Homo sapiens: one gene and its partners. The protein of the gene in region 3 interacts with the protein of the main gene of each other region in a biochemical or structural test. Each region holds a gene or a part of one and is shown on either strand. Other genes may lie near its edges.

Region 1 (7,487 bases), about 36 Mb from region 3:
GGAGGAGAGGCTGGCAGCCAGCAGCCAGCTGGGGCGGCCCCTTCCCCCAGGGGACAGGAAGGGAGGGGACAGGAAGGGAGGGGACGGCTTGGGCCAGCCCCCAGAGGGCCAAAATGCAGCCTGGTGAGACCGAAGGGAGGACCACCGAGGCCCCTCAAGGTGGGTGGGTGGGATGAGTCATGGCTCAACTCAGCTGCTAAGAGCGGGGCGCTGAGTGTGGCCTCTACAGGCAGTGGCCCAAGCGCAGGCTGGCTCAGTACCCCTGCTGGGAATAGGACCCAGCTGTCCCCAGCTGTCGAGGGAGCAAGAGAGCCTTGGGGTTATGAATCCTTTCCTCCCCAACCCAAAGTCCGGCTGTCGGCTTCAGGCCTGGGGCTTCAGGGCTGGATGGTCCTGGTTCATGTGTGGTGAAGGGGCTTCAGCAAGGACACAGGTGTGTGAGTCTCTGCCAGGGCCACAGCCTGATGCCAAGGGCCTGGGGCTGGCCGAGGATGCAGAGGGACCTGGCATCGTGCAGTGGCTTCGTATAGTGGACTGTGGTCCTGCAGGTGTGAGGTGTGTGGCTCTGGCTTGGGTGTGTGACACATCAGCATGTGTCCACAGTCAGCTGTGGGGCCCACCACCTGAGAATGGCCTCATAGATGCCACCTGCCACTAGCAACCAGATTGGTTCACCTGTATGGGCCCAGGTGTGAGTCTGAGAACAGAGGGACTGCATGTCACCATGGGAGAAGGGCCATGCCTTCCACCATTGTCGCACCATGAAGAGGAGGACTCGTGGGTCCTGTGTACACTGTAGCATACAGAAGTCACAGAAGGCCAGGCGCAGTGGCTCACGCCTGTAATCCTGACATTTTGGGAGGCCGACAAGAGAGAATTGCTTGAGCCTAGGAGTTCAAGATCAGCCTGAGCAACATAGCGAGGCCCCATCTCTTTTTCTTTTTTCTTTTTTTTGAGACAAAGTCTCCTTCTGTCACCTAGGGTGGAGTACAATGGCGCGATCTTGGCTCACTGCAACCTCCGCCTCCCGGGTTCAAGTGATTCTCCTGCCTCAGCCTCCCAAGTAGCTGGGATTACAGCTGCCTGCCACCATGCCCGGCTAATTTTTGTAATTTTAGTAGAGACAGGGTTTCACCATGTTGGCCAGGCTAGTCTCGTACTCCTGACCTCAAGTGATCTGCCCACCTTGGCCTCCCAAAGTTCTGGGATTACAGGCGTGAGCCACTGTGCTCGGCCAATGAGGCCCCACCTCTAAGGAAAAGAAAAAAGAAGTCACTGAAAGTGTGACTTCAAGCAGAAACTCAAGTGATGAAGTACCTGTGTGTGTCAATACATGTAGCTGTGGCTTAGGCTCTTGTGTGCCTGTGAGCAGCGGTGGGTTCTGCAGTTGTATGTCCACCTGTTCCTATAGCTTACAGTTTTTTGTTTGTTTGTTTGTTTTTGAGACGGAGTTTCGCTCTTGTTGCCCAGGCTGGAGGGCAATGGCGGGATCTCGGCTCACCGCAACCTCCTCCTCCCGGGTTCAAGCGATTCTCCTCCCGAGTAGCTGGGATTACAGGCATGTGCCACCACACCCGGCTAATTTTGTATTTTTTAGTAGAGACGGGATTTCTCCATGTTGATCAGGCTGGTCTCAAACTCCTGACCTCAGGTGATCCGCCCGCCTCGGCCTCCCAAAGTGCTGGGATTACAGGCGTGAGCCACCGTGCCCGGTGCTTACACAGTTTTATGTCTGGGTGTAGTTATAAATTCTGTTGGGTTTTGTTTGTTTTTGAGACACGGTCTCGCTCTGTTGCCCAGGCTGGAGTGCAGTGGTGCAATCTTGGCTCACTGTGACCTTGGCCTCTCAGGCTCAAGCAATCCTCCCACCTCAGCCTCCTGAGGAGCTGAGATTACAAGTGCGTGCATGCCACCACGCCCGGCTAAGTTTTAAGATTTTTGGTAGAGACAGGTTTTCCCCATGTTGCCCAGGCTGGTGTTGAACTCCTGACGTCAAGCAATCCTCCTGCCCCGGCCTCACAAAATGCGTGAGCCACTGTGCTGGGCCAATTTCTGTTGTTTTATGTCTTTGAGTGGCTGCGGATCAGCGCTTGTGCTTGAAGGTGGTCAGTTTTTTCTTTAGGAGATAAGGAAGGGCCGTAACTTGAGTCATTTTGTGTTCCAGTGGGGTTGTGCTGTGTCTGCCTACGGCTGTGGCCCATGCCGCTGTGTCTGCGGGTGGCTGTGACTGTAGCATATGTTGAACTGTAGGTGACCCCCCCCCAGCCCCCGCTTGTGTCCTTGTGGGTTTGTGCATGGCTGTTACTTCTGGGCTGTGTCCGTGAGTGGCTATAGCTTCCTTCACTGTGCACATCTGTGTCTGCTTTTGCTTCCTTTGCCGTGGGTCTCTGTGTGGCTGTATCTCCCCTGTCACCATGTCTGTGTTTGGCTTTATGACACCCCCCTTCCCCCACTCTTTCTCCAGACGTGGCGGTTTCAGCTCAACTTAGCCTCCTCCCTCCTCATGCTAAACCCCTGGCCCTCCACAGGCGTTTGGACACATCTCTGGAGACCCAAGTCTTTGTGTGTTGCTCTCGGTGTGTCCACAAGCACAATGCCATAGAGCACGGATGGCCAGGCCAATGAGTGCCCGGCCCTGGGGCGCTCGTCCTCTTGTGCAGACCAGGCTGGCCGTGCACCAGCGAGTGTGCACCGAGACCCCAAGGGCGTGGGGTCTCCGCGCCCGGGCTCTATCTGTCCCCGACCACCCCCGAGCCCTCCCCGGGCTCACCATGCCGCGGTACAGCTCCTCCAGGCGCCCGTCGATCCACTTCTCCACGTCCAGCCGCCGCTGCAGCTCCCGCCGGTCATACTTGACGGTGACGCGCGCGTGCCGCTTCTGCAGCCCCCCGGGACTGCCCCCTGGCCCGCGGGCCCGCGATGGAGACTGCAGCTTGCTCAGCACGCGCTTGCCCAGCCGCTGAGCTGCCATCGCGCTGCTGGACCCAGCCTGGCCCCGCGCTGTGCGCCTTCGCCTCGCGCCCCGGGTGCTTCTTACGGGCCAGGGCGGGGCTAGCCGGGGGCGGGGGCTCGGGCTCGCCGGGAGGTCTGCCCCACCCCGGCCGCCTCAGGCCTCAGTTTCCCCGTCTGCAGTGCGAGAGTAGGCCGCTGCGTCGGCTTGAGGCACGCAGTCGTGCGAAGTTGAGGTATGGGCGGGGACCCAGAGTCCCGGGCGGGTCCCTGCATCGGGGGCTCCCGGGCCGGGATCCTGTGGGGCGGGGGCCTGGGACAGACACTCGGGACCCGGCCTGTCTGCGCCCTCTGGCGGTGGCGGGGTGGGGGGCTGTTGGTGCGGGAGCGCCTGCGCCGCTGTCGCTGTAGAAGGTCGAGCGGTCACTTGTTCCTTCGTTCATTCATTCACTCATCCATCCATTTGTTTGTTCACTCATTCCGTTCAACGAATTTTTTTTTTTTTGAGTCGATGTCTCTCTTTGTCGCCCAGGCTGGAGTACAATGGCGCGATCTCGGCTCACCGCAACGTCCGCCTCCCAGGTTCAAGCGATTCTCCTGCCTCAGCCTCCGAAGTAGCTGGGATTACAGGGATGCACCACAACACCCGGCTAATTTTTGTATTTTTAGTAGAGACGGGATTTCGCCATGTTGGCCAGGCTGGCCTCGAACTCCTGACCTCAAGTGATCTGCCTGCCTCCGCCTCCCAAAGTGCTGGGATTACAGGCGTGAGCCACCGCCACTGGCCCGGTTCAACGAATATCTATTAAGTATCCACTCTATACCAGACACTGCTTTACGCTCCAGGGATAGAGCAGGGAACAAAACAGACAAAACCAGTCCCACGCAGTTGACAGTTGTAGCCGGGATACATGAGAAACACAGTAAGTACGGTATTATACAGTTTATTATCATATAAGTGCTTTGGAGAAATATAAAGCAGAGAAGGAGAAATGGAGTGAGGGTAAGGTTGCAATTTTAGCGAGGGTGGCCAGGGAAGTCCCTTACTTCAAAACAGTCTTCTCACTTCTAATTATAAGCAGCAATAATTATACTCTAAAATTTAAATGTGGCTGGGCGCAGTGGCTCACTCCTGTAATCCCAGAACTTTGGGAGGCCAAGGAGGGTGGATCACGAGGTCAGGAGTTCAAGACCAGCCTGGCCAACATGGTGAAACTCCATCTCTACTAAAAATACAAAAATTAGCTGGGCCTGGTGGCACATGCCTGTAATCCCAGCTACTCGGAAGGCTGAGGCAGGAGAATCGCTTGAACCCGGGAGGTGGAGGTTGCAGTGAGCCAAGATAGCACCATTGCACTCCAGCCTGGGCAACAAGAGCGAGACTCTGTCTCAAAATAAATAAATAAATAAAATAATAATAAATAATTTTTTTAAAAAGGCCAGGCATGGTGGCTCATGCCTGTAATCCCAGCACTTTGAGAGGCCGAGGTGGGCAGATCACGAGGTCTGGAATTCAAGACCAGCCAGGCCAACATGATGAAACCCCATCTTTACTAAAAATACAAAAAAAAAAAAAAAAAAGCCAGGCGTAGTGGTGTGCACCTGTAATTGCAGCTACTGGGGAGGCTGAGGCAGGAAAATTGCTTGAACCCAGGAGGCAGAGATTGCGGTGAGCCAAGATCGCACCACTGCACTCCAGCCTGGGTGACAGAGCAAGACTCCATCTCAAAAAAAAAAAAAAAAATTGTAGAGACAGGGTCTCCCTATGTTGCCTAGGCTGTTCTCCAATTCCTGGGCTCAAGCGATCCTCCCACCTCGGCCTCCCAAGGTGCTGGGATTATAGGCATGAGCCACCTCACTCCACCAGCCAGCCATAATGTAAAACTTTTGAGTTTCAAAGAACATCATCAAGAAAGTGAAGAGACAACCCATGGAATGGGAGGAAAAAAATTGCAGTCATGAAACTCATAAGGTGCTGGGACGAGCCACCACACCTGGCCAAACTATACACTTTAAAAAGGTGAGTTGGGCCAGGCACAGTGACTCACGCCTGTAATCCCAGCACTTTGGGAGGGCAAGGCGGATGGATCATCGGAGGTCAAGAGTTAGAGACCAGCCTGGCCAACATGGTGAAACCCCATCTCCACTAAAAATACAAAAATTAGCTGGGCATGGGGGCACATGCCTATAATCCCAACTACTCAGGAGGCTGAGGCAGGAGAATCGCTTGAACCTGGGAGGGGGATGTTGCAGTGAGCTGAGATCATGCCATTGCACTCCATCCTGGGCAACAAAAGTGAAACTCCATCTCTAAATAAATAAAGGGTGAGTTGTATGGTATGTGAGTTATATCTCAATAAGACTGTGTTTTTTTTTTTTTTTTTTTTTTTTTTTGAGGCAGAATCTCGCTCTGTTGGCCAGGCTGGAGTGCACTGGCATGATCTCAGCTCACTGCAACCTCTGCCTCCCAGGCTCAAGCAATTCTCCTGCCTCAGCCTCCCGAGTAGCTGGGATTACAGGGGTGTGCCACCACGCCTGGCTAATTTTTGTATTTTTAGTAGAAACGGGGTTTCACCATGTTGGCCAGGCTGGTCTTGAACTCCTGACCTCAGGTAATCCACCTGCCTAGGCCTCCCAAAGTGCTGGGATTACAGGCGTGAGCCACCGTGCCCGGCTTCAATAAAGCTGTTTTATTTCAAAATTAAAAACAGGCCAGGCGCCATGGTTCACGTCTGTAATCCCAGCACTTTGGGAGGCTGAGGTGAGTGGATTATCTGAGGTCAGGAGTTTGAGACCAGCCTGACCAACATGGTGAACCCGTCTCTACTAAAAATGCAAAAAAAATTAGCCAAGCATGGTGGTGCACCCCTGTAATCCCAGCTACTCAGGAGGCTGAGGTGGGAGAATTGCTTGAACCTGGGAGGCGGAGGCTGCAGTGAGCTGAGATCGTGCCATCACACTCCAGCCTGGGCGACAGAGAAAGACCCCATCTCTAAAAAAACAAAAATAAAAAACAACTATCCATAGCTACCCATGACCTTCAGTCTAAAGGCCAAACTCTGGTTTAGCAGTCCCATCTCTGCCAGGGACAGTCCCATTTCAGCACCAGCACCTTTCACTCGCAGTTCCCTCTGCCAGGAAGGTTCTTCCCTAGAATATCATCAGGGCTCACTCCTTCACCTCCCTCCAATGTCACTGTTCAGTGAGGTCTTCCCTGGCCACGCTATTTCACACTGCAACTCTCGTGCCCCTCATCCAGCTCTGTTTGATACATAACACTTACCACTTTCTAACATTATATATATATATATATATATATATATTTTTTTTTTTTTTTTTTTTTTTTTTTTTTTTTTTTTGAGTTGGAGTCACCTCAGGCTGGAGTATAGTATTGTGATCATGGCTCACTGCAACCTCTGCCTCCTGGGTTCAAGAGATTCTCCTGCTTCAGCCTCCTGAGTAGCTGGGACTACAGTTATACACCACTGTGTCCGCTTACTTTTTATATTTTCAGTAGAGATGGGGTTTCACCATGTTGGTCAGGCTGGTCTCGAACTCCTGACCTCAGACGATCTGCCCGTCTTGACCTCCCAAAGTGCTGGAATTACAGGCATGAGCCACCATGCCTGGCCTCTAACATTATATATAATGTACTCATTTAATGTATTGTCCATGCCAGGCGTGGTGGCTCACACCTGTAATCTCAGCACTATAGGATGCTGAGGCAGGAGGAGCAATTACATCCAGGAGTTCAAGATCAGCTTGGGCAACATAGTGAGACCCTGTCGCTACAAAAAAAAAAAAAAAAAAAAAAAGCCAGGTGCAATAGTACATGCTTGTAGTCCCAGTTACTCTGGAGGCTGAGTTGGGAGGATCACTTGAGTCCAGGAGATGGAGGACGCAGTGAACTGTGATTGCACCACTGCACTCCAGCCTGGGTGATGGAGTGAGACCCTGTCTCAAAAAGAAAAATGTCATATTTTCTGTTCTGTGCAGTGACAGAAAAAAAAAATTATTGTCTGTTTCCCAACTAGTAGCATACTAAAGGCAGGGGGACAGGACTGGTCCACTTTGGGTACAGGCAAAAAGAGGGTGCACTGTCTGTAGAGAATTTAAAAATAAAAAGCTGACCAAGGCCGGGCATGGTGGCTCATGCCTGTAATCCCAGCACTTTGGGAGGCCAAGGCAGGCAGATCACCTGAGGTCAGGAGTTCAAGACCTGCCTGGCCAACATGGTGAAACCCCATCTCCATAAAAATACAAAAATTAGCCGGGTGTGGTGGTACAAGCCTGTAATCCCAGCTACTTGGGAGACTGAGGCAGGAGAATCGCTTGAACCCGGGAGGTGGAGGTTGCGATGAGCCAAGATCGTGCCATTGCACTGCAGCCTAGGCGACAGACAGAGTGAGACTCCATTTCAAAAAAACTGACCAAAAGTTGGTCTAATTTTTATTTTACTTTGCAGTGACATTTCTAAACAGTGTCAATGATAAAATAGTCCTCCCCAGGGAAGAAACAGAAACAAAAACCTTTTGGTG
Region 2 (7,022 bases), on a different chromosome or scaffold from region 3:
ACCCCGTCCCTACTAAAAGTTCAAAAATTAGCAGGCTGTGATGGCACGCGCCTGTAATCCCAGCTACTCAGGAGGCTGAGGCAGGAGAATTGCGTGAACCCGGGAGACGGAGGTTGCAGTGAGCAGAGATCATGCCATTGCACTCCAGCCTGGGCGACAGAGCGAGACTCCATCTCAAAAAAAAAAAAAAAAAAGCAAACAGTTACAATGCATATTTGTCGAGTTTCAGATGGCAAATGGCAAGCAAAACTATAACAGGCTATGTGAAGACCTAGTTGTAACTGTTTTCTGTTAATGGATGGGAAAAGTTTACATCATTATATAGTAAATGATAAGGGTTTATTTTTTGTCTGTCCAAGCACCCTCTCCTGTGAGGACTGCCGAATGCTGATTACCTTCACTCTTTGTTTAGATGATGCTTCCCAGATGGACTTGTTCCACAGAGACTCTGATGATGATCAGACTGAAGAACAGCTTGATGAGTCAGAAGCCAGGTGGAGGAAGGAGCGAATTGAACGAGAGCAGTGGCTTCGGGACATGGTAGGAGTTCACCTACTCTGACCCTAGTTTATGAGACTGTCCCTTAGCTTGTCATGATAGTTTCAAAATCTTAGCTTGTCATGATAGTTTCAAAATCTTAGGCAACATATTGCTATCTCTTTTAATCCTTGAGCTATCTTTTGTGTTTTGAGAAGGCTATACCATAGACAGTTCTCTTCATGTTTGTCTAAGATTAATTTTTTTTTGTCTAAAGCAGCAAAGGCTGCAAAAAGGAAAACAAATACCCCAGGAACTCTAGTTTCACAATCCAGGCCATGCTAACTATTTAGGAAGGTTATAGACTTTTAATGCTGTATATATATATATATATATATATATATTTTTTTTTTTTTTCAGGCACAGCAGGGGAAAATTACAGCTGAAGAAGAAGAAGAAATTGGGGAGGACAGTCAGTTTATGATACTGGCCAAGAAAGTTACAGCCAAAGCACTGCAGAAGAATGGTGAGCTCTTGTTTCTCCTTAGGGTCTAGCCCCCTGGATTGTTAGTGGTAGAGCTTTGGAGGTGACTCTAACCTTCAGGAGCTGTTGCAGCTTAATCATAAGCTTGTGTCTAATACTGTCTTAAAGAGGCTTCACAGAGGTGGTGGGAGACAGTGTACTTAGATCTTAGACTATTGGGCAGTAGAGACTGTATTCATGAGTATATGTGGCTGGTTTTACTTTATGTTCTAAGGCTCAGAGTAGTTAATTCTGGCTTTCTCTAGTTGCCCAGGATTGTATACCTAAGTGTTAGAGGTAGGATTTGAATCCAGGAATATTTAACTCCAGAAATGAAGCTCTTCACTATTCCCTACACTGACCACTTCTGTTTTTCTTAAATGATTACTGTTCAACTTAGTTGTGTCTCTTCTTGGAGCCAATTATTATAGTTTGAAAGTCACCATTATATAGAACAGAGTTCCCATGGCTTTAGCATATTGATTTAGTTACAAGATTTCTTAGCTTGTTTAGATTTAAAAGTAATTCTAATCAGCTTTTCCCAGAATAGGCCTCTCTGTCTTTTCTTTCCAGCCAGTCGCCCTATGGTTATTCAGGAATCAAAGTCTTTGCTCAGAAATCCTTTTGAAGCCATCAGACCAGGAAGTGCTCAACAGGTTGGTTGGGAACCTTGTTAATCTGACATCATAGTCTACAGGTTATAAAGGCCCAGGTCCAGCTTAGAGAATAGTCTCTGTCATTAGAGGAAGGAGGTGGCTGCAGGGAAAAAGTTAATGTCAAAGGAGTCTGCTATTTCTTTTCTATTTGAATAGGGTAGGCATATGTACCCTCAATATCTAGGGGGAAGCAGGGAGGGAAGGACTTTTCATTCTTTAGTTGGCACTTGGGATTTGATACCAGATGACTCTTCTTTCCTCAGGTGAAGACAGGCTCACTGCTAAACCAGCCCAAAGCTGTGCTTCAGAAACTGGCTGCTCTCTCTGACCATAACCCCAGTGCTCCTCGAAATTCAAGAAACTTTGTCTTTCATACACTTTCTCCTGTCAAGGCTGAGGCGGCAAAGGAATCGTCTAAGTCTCAGGTATGGAATTTGAGAACTAATATGGTGGCTTCCCAAACCAGAATTTATTCATTTATTTAAATTTAAAAACAAAAATTCTGGCTTAACCTCTATGCTGCAATGTTGAAATCTTGCACTCCCCGATAAGGTACAAGAGAATTGCTACCCCAGTCGGTAATCAACTTTTAAACTTGCCGAGAAAGTTTATCTTTCTTTCTTTTTTTCTGTTGTTAATCATCCACAATTTATGAGTTGCTTGAGAGCTAATTGAAGGTAAATACTTGTATGAAGGTCTTTAGCTGGCCCTGACTCCCTCTCTGCTCTCTAGGTAAAGAAAAGGGGTCCATCTTTCATGACTTCTCCTTCACCTAAGCACCTCAAAACAGATGATAGCACTTCAGGATTGACGCGAAGCATCTTCAAATATTTGGAGAGCTAACACCATCAAAGGTGCCAAAATCTACATTGAGACTGCTTTGAGAAGTTTCTAGCACTGAAAGTTGGAATTGACACTCCAGCCAATGATCCTTCCTTCTTTCATAATCAATGCAATAAGATTGCAGACAGAAATTCCAGTGATTTCTACTGCACAGCTCTGGACATCTCTTTTCCTAGTATTATTCCCTGAATTGGCCACTGATTTCAATTCTGCAGTATTTACAACATCAACAACTCATGGAATACTTGGGTGAGGTTTCCTTTTTTTTTTTTTTTTTAAGATGGGAGTCTCACTCTGTTGCCCAGCTTGGAGTGCAGTGGCGTGATCTCGGCTCACCACAATCTCTGCCTCCCAGGTTCAAGCGATTCTCCTCCTTCAGCCTCCCGAGTAGCTGGGATTACAGGCATGTGCCAATACGCCCAGCTAATTTTTGTATTTTTAGTAGAGACGGGGTTTCACCATGTTGGCCAGGCTGGTCTTGAACTCCTGACCTCAAATGATCCATCCACCTCGGCCCCACAAAGTGCTGGTCACATGCATGAGTCACTGCACCTGGCCTTGGGTTAGGTTTCACTTCCTCCATTAGACATTTGACATTTTATTGTAGCAGCTTTCTGGGTTAATATCTCTTTGTGATTGATAGAAGTGGTTGGAAGAGGAAGAGTAGGGAAAAGTGTGACATTACAGATTAAACAGTGAAAATCAGTACCATAATGACTCCTTTACACCCATGAGATACGTACCATGATGACCAGGGCTCGGTGAAAGAAAGATTTCTTTTTTTTTTTTTGAGATAGTCTCACTTTGTTGCCCAGTCTGGAGTGCAGTGGCGCAATCTCGGCTCACGGCAACCTCTGCCTCCCGGGTTCAAGTGATTCTCCTGTCTCAGCCTCCCAAGTAGCTGGGACTACAGGTGCATGCCACCACACCTGGCTAATTTTTGTATTTTTAGTGGAGACAGGGAGTCACCATGTTGGCCAGGCTGGTCTCGATCTCCTGACCTCAAGTGATCCAGCTGCCTCAGCCTCCCAAAGTGCTGAGATTACAGGCGTGAGCCACTGTGCCCAGCCAAAAGAACGATTTCTTAGATGGAGGACCTAGGAACCAACAGATGGGCTGCTGTATTACTCTTACCCCTTTCATTTTCCTGTATGCTTCTTCCCAAGGCAGCATCAAATTTTGAATTAATTTTTGCTGCTTAATAAGGACTTAAACTGGTACCCAAGTCAGAAAGACTCTGCCTCTAATTTTCTGGGGCTTGGGGATGAAGATAAAGTGTTACACCCAGTGTTTGTCCACCACAGTCTGTGGGGCAGAGAGACCCTTCCTGGGACTGAATTCTCAATTTGAAGCACTGTTGTTCAAAGATCTCCCTTCTGGGTCTGACAAGAAGAAACATAACCCTTATTTATTGCATTCTTCTGGCTTACATACATTGCCCTCACTAATCAATGGACATTTCAGCATTTCATTACTAATTTTGAGAGAAGGCCACCATGGAATTTAATAAAAATATTATTGAAGAGAATTGCCATCATTCTCCATTTTCCCTGAACTACCACAAGCTTCTCAGAATTTTAGACAAATGTTTTTCCCCTCAGAACTGAGCATCAGTGCTGCTTTGGAAAAACATTCCATGTGAATACTGTGGTTTCAGTGTCAGGACCTGTACTTGGGCAGTTGGAAGAGAGTGTGCCAGTTTTTTACTGGGAGATGGGAACACCAATTTAATTGATGCAATTAGGTTGTAGGTTTTTTACAGTTTTTCTTTTCTTTTCTTTTTCTTTTTCTTTTCTTTTCTTTTCTTTTTTTTTTTTTGAGACATAGGCTGGCTCTGTCACCTAGGCTGGAATACAATGGCATGATCTCGGCTTACTGCAACCTCCGCCTCCTAGGTTCAAGCAATTCTGCCTCGGCCTCCCAAATAGCAGGGATTACAGGCACCTGCCACCACTCCCAGCTAATTTTTTGTATTTTTATTAGAGATGAGGTTTCGCCATGTTGGCCAGGCTGGTCTTGAACTCCTGACCTGAGGTGATCCACCCGTCTCGGCCTCCCAAAGTGCTGGGATTATAGGCATGAGCCACCGCACCCGGCCGGTTTTCTACAGTTTTCTAATACTCAAGATGTTGACTTTGACAATACTTATGTTTGTATACTTGTAATCTTATAATGGGGAAAATGTGTATAAAGATGTTTTAATATGTATGTAGTTTTTCAATAAATCTTAATGCCTTGAAGGGAAGATTTGCTGTCCAGCTTGAATGCTCATTCTTGGGTCAGTGCCTGTCTAACCTTGAGGAGCATTTCATTTTCAGGTTATCTCCATCCCAGGGAAACCCTCTGGGTCTAAACTGAGAAGCTGCTGCAATTGTCCCCTCACTGGCTTCTCAGTCCTAGTGAATTGATCAAGTTAACTTACCAAGTGGTTTGGGTTCAGCTCAGGTGAAGAGGATAATTGAGTTTACATAAATGGTACCTTCTATTATAGCTCTTTGTTTAAAAAACTTATTTTTTAGAGACAGTCTCATTCTGTTGCCCAGGTTAGAGTGCAGTGGCACAATCATAGCTCACTGTACCCTTGAACTCCTGGGCTTCAGCATCCTCCTTCCTCAACCTTTGGAATAGCTGGGCCACATTACAGGCATATGCCACCATGCCCAGCTAATTATTTTATTTTAGTAGAGACAGGGTCTTGCTGTGTTGCCCCAGCTGATCTTGAACTCCTGGCCTCAAGTAATCCTCCCACCTTGGCCTCCCAAAATGCTGGGGTCACAGGCTCAGCCACCATGCCCAGCCTGTTACAGCTTTGATTGGCCTTTCTCTTTAGCTAAGTTTGTATGTACTTCATTTTATCCATGGGTTCAAGATACATGTTTTTGCCTCTTTCTTTGAACTCTCTAAACAGTTCCCAAGGCAAAGTAGCCCTTGCTGGGCAAAAGAGAACTGAGCAGGAAGGCTAGATATTTCTTCCCTCTTGTTTCCCTACATGTCTTTTGAGGAGAGATAGAAAAGACAATTGGAATTGACAACTGAGGATAAGAAAATTCAGCCAGGTCCGGTGGCTCACGCCAGCACTTTAGGAGACTGAGGTGGGTGCATTGCTTGAACTCAGGAGTTCGAGACCAGCCTGGGAAACATGGTGAAATCCCAACTCTAAAAAAAAAAAAAAAAAGAAAAAAAAAAGAAAATTAGTGCCTGAGAAATCCAGGGAGAAAATGGTTTCTGGGCTGGGCGTGGTGGCTTATGCCTGTAATCTCAGCACTTTGGGAGGCTGAGGCAGCTGGATCACCTAAGGTCAGGAGTTGGAGACCAGACTGACCAACAAGGTGAAACCCCGTCTCTACTAAAAATACAAAAATCAGCCAGGCTTGGTGGTGGCAGGTGCCTGTAGTCCCAGCTACTTGGGAGGCTGAGACAAGAGAATTGCTTGAACCTGGGAGGCAGAGGTTGCAGTGAGCCGAGATCACGCCACTGCTCTCCAGCATGGGCGACAGAGTGAGACTCCCTCTCAAAAAAAAAAAGAAAGAAAGAAAATGGTTTCTGATTGAGGCTCCTGGGAGAAAGCACTCTTTGGAGAAAGAAAACTTGAGTCAAACTCTGGGTTACTTTTCCTTATGCCAGGATGGCTGCTATAAAGTAAGCTAAGCCTTGATCTTGGTAACAGGATTGACATGGACAGTTTCAATCTGACCCATATGCCCTTTGCCCAAAGCACTGAGCCAGCAGCATCAGTTATGTTTTAATGAAATTGAAGCCCCAGGACCTGCCACTATGGCTCTGAGGAGGACTCAGCTTCACTAGCTTGGAAATTACATATTTGGAGGGATGAGAGCCCATGAGTGTGGGAGATAGGGTAGGCTCAGTGTCAGTGTTTTTGTTTCTTCCTTGTTCCATACACTTGAGTAGGGATACATGGTATTAACCTCTTTAAACAGGTCTCTAATTTCATCTCATTAATTCACAGTTGCACAGCCATACTAGGGTCTCTTCCATAAACCATAAGATTTTATTCACCAAAGCTCTAGAGACAAGGTACTCAGATCTCTGTGGCATCCCTCATTTTCTCAACTGCTTCTCTACAAACTTCTCCTCACTTTGAGAGTTTCTAATGCTCAGGCTGGGAGACTTTTTAGGGGGTGTTTTTGGTTTTTATCTCCTAGGGTTATGTCTAATCACTCTTGTGGCATCCTGTCCTGGGATTTGTGCTCCTAAGGATAGAGGAGAGTATTTCTGGGAGGAGTGTTCCCATGATACTATTTGATTATGTCATCCTTGAGATGGTATTGTATCTTCTACCCTTATATCCTACTCATCGCCTGGCACACAGCTTGGAATGTAGTGGTGCCTACCACAGTTTGAATAAATAACACTACACCTTTCAGAGCCTCTGTTTATAAAATGAGGATACTAAGTCATGGCTGTCTCAGAGTTGCTGGGGGGCTTCAGTTGGAAAATGTATGTCAGTGCATTATGTCAAGTGCCACTCTGTAAGCATAAGAAATTGCCAGTAGCTCCCAGAA
Region 3 (7,022 bases):
GGGTGCCGGGAGGCCGTCCATCGGAGGACACACCAGCCCTTCTTCATCTGCTCCCAGCGCAGGGACGCTTGGCTGTTTCTGGATTTGGGCCCTTCTGAATAGAACTAACTGCCCAAATAGAACTGAATAGCACTGGGCTCCTCGAGCACTCCACGTCCCCAGCACTCAGGACTGTTGGTGGCTTTGATGTTGAGCCTGTTGTGGACTCCGGTTGTTGAATGTTGTTCCGTTGTCTAGAATGTTCTAGAATGTGTCGTTTTTTCTGTTTTTAAGGTTTTTATCTTTGATTTAAAATATTGACTATGCTCTCCTTAGATGAGGCTTTCTGTTTTTATCCTGCTTGGGATCCACTGACTTCTTGGATCTCTGTGTTGGTACTTTTTCAAATTAACTTTGGAAAAATGTGAGCCATTATTTCATGAAACGTTTTTCCATCTCAGCTTTGCTTTGCTTTGTTTTGTTTTGTTTTTGAGATGGAGTTTCACTCTTGTTGCCCAGCCTGGAGTGCAGTGGCACCATCTCGGCTCACCACAACCTCTGCCTCTCGGGTTCAAGCAATTCTCTTGCCTCAGCCTCCCGAGTAGCTGGGATTACAGGCGTGAGCCACCATGCCTGGCTAATTTTTTATATTTTTAGTAGAGATGGGGTTTCACCTTGTTGGCCAGGCTGGTCTTGAACTCCTGACCTCAGGTGATCCACCTGCCTCGGCCTCCCAAAGTGCTGGGATTACACATGTGAGTTACCGCGCCTCGCCTGCTTTGTTTTTTTTTTTTTTTGAGACAGAGTCTCGCTCTGTCACCCAGGCTGGAGTGCAGTGGCGTAACCTCAGCTCACTGCAAGCTCTGCCTCCCAGGTTCGTGCCATTCTCCTGCCTCAGTCTCCCAAGTAGCTGGGACTACAGCCGCCCGCCACCACACCCAGCTAATTTTTTGTATTTTTAGTAGAGACGGGGTTTCGCCGTGTTAGCCAGGATGGTCTCCATTTCCTGACCTCGTGATCTGCCCGCCTCGGCCTCCCAAAGTGCTGGGATTACAGGCGTGAGCCACCGCGCCTGGCCTTGCTTTGGTTTTTTGAGACAGAGTCTCACTCTCTTGCCCAGGCTGGAGTGCAGTGGCGCGATCTCGGCTCACTGCAACCTCCGCCTCCTGGGTTCAAGCAATTCTGCCTCAGCCTCCCAAGTAGATGAGATTACAGGTGCCTGCCACCACGCCCAGCTAAATTTTTGTATTTTTAGTAGAGACAGGGTTTTGCCATGTTGGCAAACTCCTGACCTCAGGTGATCTGCCCGCCTTGGCCTCTGAAAGTGCTGGGATTACAGGCGTGGGCCACCATACCCAGCCTTGCTCTCATTCCTGGGTTCTGGTTCTGCGTGTGACAGGAGTGCTTGGCCCTGTCCCCAGGTCCCTCAGCCCTGGCTGTTTTCCGTCTGCCTCTGTGCTCTCCTGGTGTCAGGCTGTGCGGCTGCTGCTGCTGCTGCTTGAAAGTTTACTCTTTTTCTGCAGCCTCCAACCCCAGAAGTCCATGTGGTGAATCTTTGATTGCTTAGTGGCATTTTTCGGTTTCGTCTGATTGTCCATTCGCTCTCAGCTGAGATTTCCCATGTGCACATTCACTTTGGCCATCTTTTCCTTTAAATCTTTGAACATGTTTGTGCTGTTTCTTAGTCCATTTTGTGCTGCTGTAACAGAATGCCACAGACTGGGTCATTTATTTTTATTTATTATTTATTATTTTTTGAGATGGAGTCTTGCTCTGTTGCCCAGGCTGGAGTGCAGTGGTACTATCTTGGCTCACCACAACCTCCGCCTCCCGGGTTCAAGCAATTCTCCTGCCTCAGCCTCCCGAGTAGCTGGGATTACAGGCGCCCGTCACCACACCCAGCTAATTTTTGTATTTTCAGTAGAGACAGGGTTTCACTGTGTGTTGGTTGGCTAGGCTGGTCTCAAACTCCTGACCTCGTGATCTACCTGCCTCAGCCTCCCAAAGTGCTAGGGTTACAGGCATGAGCCACTGCACCTGGCCAGATCATTTATAATGAACAGAAATTGATGGGCTCACCGTTCTGGAGGCTGGTGAGCCCCAGATTGAGGGTGGCGTCTGGCAAAGACCTTCTTGCCATGTCATGGCAAGAAGGCATGGTGGAAGGCAGGACGGCACAGACCGGAGGGGGCTGGATTCGCCCTTTAGTCAGGAACCCACTCCCCTGCTGATGGCATTCACTCATCCACGAGGGCAGCGACTCAGATCCTCTCTCTAGGCCCCAGCCCCAGCCCCAGCAGTGCTGGATTGGGGACCAGGTTCCCAACACATGACCCTTGGGGGGTGCATCAAAGACACAGCACTGTGTGGAGTGACGTCTGTGCTGCTTCTTCCTCCCTTGTCACGGTCACACCTCCCTCACTCACCTGTGGGACAGCCTCACTGGGCGTGGCCGTGGTGTGTGCCGTGAGGTGTGGAGGGTGCCGTCTCCCGGCTTGAGCGCTGAGTTTGTCCCCGTGGCTCACCTTGTTTCTGTCAGGTTGGTTTCAGCGTTGCTGGGGCAAGGCTGAGGGTAAACATGAGCGACTCCAAGGCCAGGGAGCCCTGTGCCAAGGTGTGGACCTTTTGGGTTCTCAGCTGAAGTAGAGAATCCAGGGAGGACCCCGCACTCCGGCCATTGGAGCTGTGGCGTCCTCCCTCCTGTGTGTCCCCCGGAACCTCCTGAGCCTCTCTGGAGCTGTTCTCTGCCAGGCCCCGTGGGCTCTCCTGCCCTCTGCATGCATCGCGAGTACTGCCGGAGGAGGCCCCTTTGGCTTTCAGAGCCCAGAGCGCCCGACCTCCTCCAGGAGTCTGCAGATCCACAGGCCTCAGATGCTGCCACACCCACCCAGCACACACCCAGGTCTCTGACACGCCAGCCGCACACAGCGGTGGGGTTCAGGCGAAGGTTTCTTCCACAGTGCAGAGTAGAAGAGCCGGGAAGGACCCCATCACCATCAGATGCATCAGAGCTTCAAAGGCCCGCCCATCAAGACGCTGCCAAGAGCATGAGGCCAGCCAGGCTGGGGAGGACGTTGGCGAGCATCCGCCTGCCCGTCAGGGAGCCACAGCTGGATGATACATCGACAGACAGCAGAGGGACGGTGTAGCACACAGGCGAGGGCTTGTCCTCCTCAGCCTGGGGGAGCGCAGCTCAGTGCTTGGTGGTCAGCACGTGACTGACACTTTGCCGGAGAAGGGGACGGCTGCCCGCAGGAAGAGCTACACAGCCGTGTTCGCCGGAACTCCGCTCTGGAGAGTCAGAACTGGAGACGGGAGGGCGTGCCTCAAGGGCAGATGGGCAAACCAAACCCCATCCTCCCTGTGAGCCGCGGCACAGCACCAGGCGGGCACACGCAGCACGACACGGCGAGGAGCCCACCGCAGGGGCAGCCTTTTGGGCGGGGAAGGGGGGATGAATCCACTGTGAATCCCACCTCCGAAGGGCAGCGCAGGAAGGACACGCAAATGCTGGACTGAACCTGCAGCTGATTCAGGGGGCAGTGTCCTGAGCTCTAAAACTTCAAACCTGGGGCAGTGTCCTGAGCTCTAAAACTTCGAAATCTGACCAGGCACAGTGGCTCACGCCTGTAATCCCAACACTTTGGGAGGCTGATGTGGGCGGATCACCTGACGTCAGGAGTTCGAGACCAGCCTGGACAACATGGAGAAAGCCCATCTCTAGTAAAAATACAAAAATTAGCCAGGTTGATGGTGCCTGCCTGTAATTCCAGCTACTCAGGAGGCTGAGGCAGGAGAATCGCTTGAACCCAGGAGGCAGAGGTTCCAGTGAGCCGTGATCGCGCCAGTGCACTCCAGCCTGGGCAACAGAACGAGACTCTGCTCCAAAAAGAAAAAAACTTTGAAATCCCTCTAAAAATAAAATGGACCGGTGGATGGTAGCTGTGAGGATGGACCGTGTGGCAGGTTTAGTTCTGGGGCCTCGGCAATGAGTGTTGGGTGTTTGGGGCACGGCTCCTGTTGTTTTACGAGGAGAATTTCCTAATAACGTGTTACACTGGGGAGAACGTAGGAGGGGAGCCCATTTGTTCTGAAAACGCGGGGACCAGCCCTGGTCCCCGGCTCAGGACTGGAGGGGTTGCCCTGGTCCCTGGCTCAGGACTGGAGAGACCAGCCCTGGTCCCGGGCTCAGGGCTGCAGGGAGGCACCTGGTCTTCCCTCGTCCTCACGATCCTGCACCCTCAAGATGCCACGTTGTTGAGGCTGTTTAGGGAACTTGACAAGCTGATTGGAAACTGTGCTGAAATAGAGCCCAGGTAGTGATGCGGACAGGGCAGTGCCAGAAGGAGCCCCAGCGATTCCTGTGCTGCAAGGCACGCCCAGGACGGGGCACTAGCCGGGGGAAGAGGCTCTCAGGGCCCAGGTGGGACCCCAGCCTCAGACTATGAGGTCATGACTGTGTACAGCTCAGCCACCGGGCTTTGGGACTTTGAATCCACCTTAGCAGGGTTTCCAAACCCATTGTCTCCACGGCCACCCTGCCAGTCCAGCTGCAGCAGGGCGGAACAAAGTGGAGGCCTCTTTCTTGCTTTCTTTTTTTTTTTTTTTGAGACAGAGTTTCTCTCTTGTTGCCCAGGCTGGAGTGCAATGGCACCATCTCAGCTCACCACAACCTTCACCTCCCGGGTTCAGGCAATTCTCCTGCCTCAGCCTCCCTGGTAGCTGGGATTACAGGCATGCATCACCATGCCAGGCTAATTTTGTATTTTTAGTAGAGATGGGGTTTCTCCATGTTTGTCAGGCTGGTCTCGAACTCCCGACCTCAGGTGATCCGCCTGCGTCAGCCTCCCAAAGTGCTGGGATTACAGGCATAAGCCACCGTGCCCGGCCACAGAGGCCTCATTCTGCAGCGTATGCTACTCGGGCAAAGGCAGCTGACTGCAGACCCAACACGGTGACCCAGCTGGATGGTGCCTGAGAGACGGGGCTGCCCCACATGGTGCCCTGTCATGCCGCGGGACAGGTCGCCCAGCAGATGGTAGCTATGGCCCCAGTGCCATCCTGGGCTGGAGACACATGGGTGCCAGACACGTTCATGCCTGTCGTCTGGCCCAGCTGCCGTGGGGAGCCCTCCAGGGCCGTGTGCCTGCAGGGACCGGCCTGTTCACCTCTAGGCTCACCCCTCGGGTGCTGAGTCACCACAGTGGGTGGGGCCGTGCCCCCTCCCAGGCCGGCTTCCACAGCTGCCCCTGCAGAGCGCCTCTGTGTTAAGGGCTGGCCGCCTCCTTCCTCAGGGGGTGTAACATGTAAAAAGCTGCACCCTGGCCTGTACAGGGGCTCCCGCCTGTTATCCCAGCCCTGTGGGAGGCTGAGGCAGGCAGATCGCTTGAGCTCAGGAGTTCAAGATCAGCCCGGGCAACTTGGAGAAACCCCGTCTCTACTAAAAATACAAAAATTAGTTGGGTGTGGTGGTGCGCACCTGTAGTCCCAGCTACTTGGGAGGCTGAGATGGGAGGATGGCTTGAGCCTGGGAGACAAAGGCTGCAGTGAACTGCGATCTCGCCACTACACTCCAGACTGGGCAACAGAGCGACACCGTCTCAAAAAAAAAAAAAAAAAAAAGGTTCTGGGCCTCGTACCTTCTGCGCTTTCATGAGACTCAGCCCTGGAAGTCCTATGTGGCTGGTGGCCCCAGGGAACAGGACCTGGGCTCCTCTCTTCTAACCCATGTGGGCCACAGGTCCCTGTCCATCTGTGCTGGGGCTCACCTGGGGGCCGAGGGCCTCGGGCATGTGGGAGATTTGTCTTTGAGAAAGGGGTGGAGGAGTGTGGAGCCCTTGGGGCTGCCTGCAGGCCGTGAGAGACCTCCCCAGTGCCGCTTCTGTCCTGGGCTAGGGAGGTGGGGGGGCGGGGGAGGAGGAGTGGCAGACACTGAGGCGGTGACCACACGGGCAGGGTGCAGGTGTCGGGATGACTTGGCAGGCCATGGTGCAGTGCTCTGGCAGGCTGGGCCCAGGCCCTGCTGCTGGGCAGTGGTGTCATTTGGAGGGTGGTCCTTCAGGGACCCCCTCCTGCCTCCTGCCTCGGGGGTGGGCTGGGGAGGTCGGGGCTAGGTGGGCCCTGCGCTGGCGGTGCTGATGGTCTCTGTCCCCGCAGGAAAGAATCTCTATACAAATGAATACGTGGCTATCAAATTGGTGAGTCGGCCCCTCCACCCCACCCCCGCTGACGTGCCCCCCAGGGATTTCAGGGCAGCGACCCGGTCCCCTGGTGACTCGCTCTTGTGCCCCCAGGAGCCGATCAAGTCCCGGGCCCCGCAGCTGCACCTGGAGTACCGGTTCTACAAGCAGCTCAGCGCCACAGGTACCGGGCGGCCCGCGGGTGGGGCGGGGGCTGCGCAGGGGCAGGGAGGGGGCTGCCGCCGCACGCCCGTGCGTCTGTCCTCCGCCGCAGAGGGCGTCCCTCAGGTCTACTACTTCGGTCCGTGCGGGAAGTACAACGCCATGGTGCTGGAGCTGCTGGGGCCCAGCCTGGAGGACCTGTTCGACCTGTGCGACCGGACCTTCACGCTCAAGACGGTGCTGATGATCGCCATCCAGCTGGTGCGCGGCGGGCGGGGCGGGGCGGGGCTCGGAGGGAAGAGGGTGGCCCTGGAGGGGAGCGCGTGGGACGGGGAGGGGCCCGGCCGACACCGCCGTGCCCCCCTGCAGATCACGCGCATGGAGTATGTGCACACCAAGAGCCTAATCTACCGGGACGTGAAGCCCGAGAACTTCCTGGTGGGCCGCCCGGGGACCAAGCGGCAGCATGCCATCCACATCATCGACTTCGGGCTGGCCAAGGAGTACATCGACCCCGAGACCAAGAAGCACATCCCGTACCGCGAGCACAAGAGCCTGACGGGCACGGCGCGCTACATGAGCATCAACACGCACCTGGGCAAGGGTGAGCTGCGCGCGCGCGGCGGGGGGCGGGCGCCCGGACCCCGCTGAGGCTGCGCCCCTGTCCCCGCAGAGCAGAGCCGCCGCGACGACCTGGAGGCG

Evidence for each region.
Region 1: the proteins of CSNK1G2 (region 3) and PPP1R14A form a complex in vitro, tested with the Homo sapiens proteins (one study listed by BioGRID).
Region 2: of the proteins of CSNK1G2 (region 3) and CLSPN, one has a biochemical effect on the other in vitro, tested with the Homo sapiens proteins (one study listed by BioGRID).

Annotation. Positions count from the first base shown.
Region 1 is NC_000019.10:38,253,369-38,260,855, forward strand, and holds the start of PPP1R14A (protein phosphatase 1 regulatory subunit 14A), read right to left. Parts: upstream 3,007-7,487; 5' UTR 2,972-3,006; coding exon 2,771-2,971; intron 1-2,770. UniProt on the Homo sapiens protein: Inhibitor of PPP1CA. Has over 1000-fold higher inhibitory activity when phosphorylated, creating a molecular switch for regulating the phosphorylation status of PPP1CA substrates and smooth muscle contraction.
Region 2 is NC_000001.11:35,731,973-35,738,994, reverse strand, and holds the end of CLSPN (claspin), read left to right. Parts: intron 1-412; coding exon 413-540; intron 541-897; coding exon 898-1,003; intron 1,004-1,573; coding exon 1,574-1,656; intron 1,657-1,919; coding exon 1,920-2,081; intron 2,082-2,388; coding exon 2,389-2,499; 3' UTR 2,500-6,883; downstream 6,884-7,022.
Region 3 is NC_000019.10:1,972,170-1,979,191, forward strand, and holds part of CSNK1G2 (casein kinase I), read left to right. Parts: intron 1-2,939; exon of another isoform or gene 2,940-3,902; coding exon of another isoform or gene 3,903-3,945; intron 3,946-6,135; coding exon 6,136-6,176; intron 6,177-6,272; coding exon 6,273-6,342; coding exon of another isoform or gene 6,343-6,432; coding exon 6,433-6,581; intron 6,582-6,689; coding exon 6,690-6,924; intron 6,925-6,993; coding exon 6,994-7,022. UniProt on the Homo sapiens protein: Serine/threonine-protein kinase. Casein kinases are operationally defined by their preferential utilization of acidic proteins such as caseins as substrates. It can phosphorylate a large number of proteins. Participates in Wnt signaling.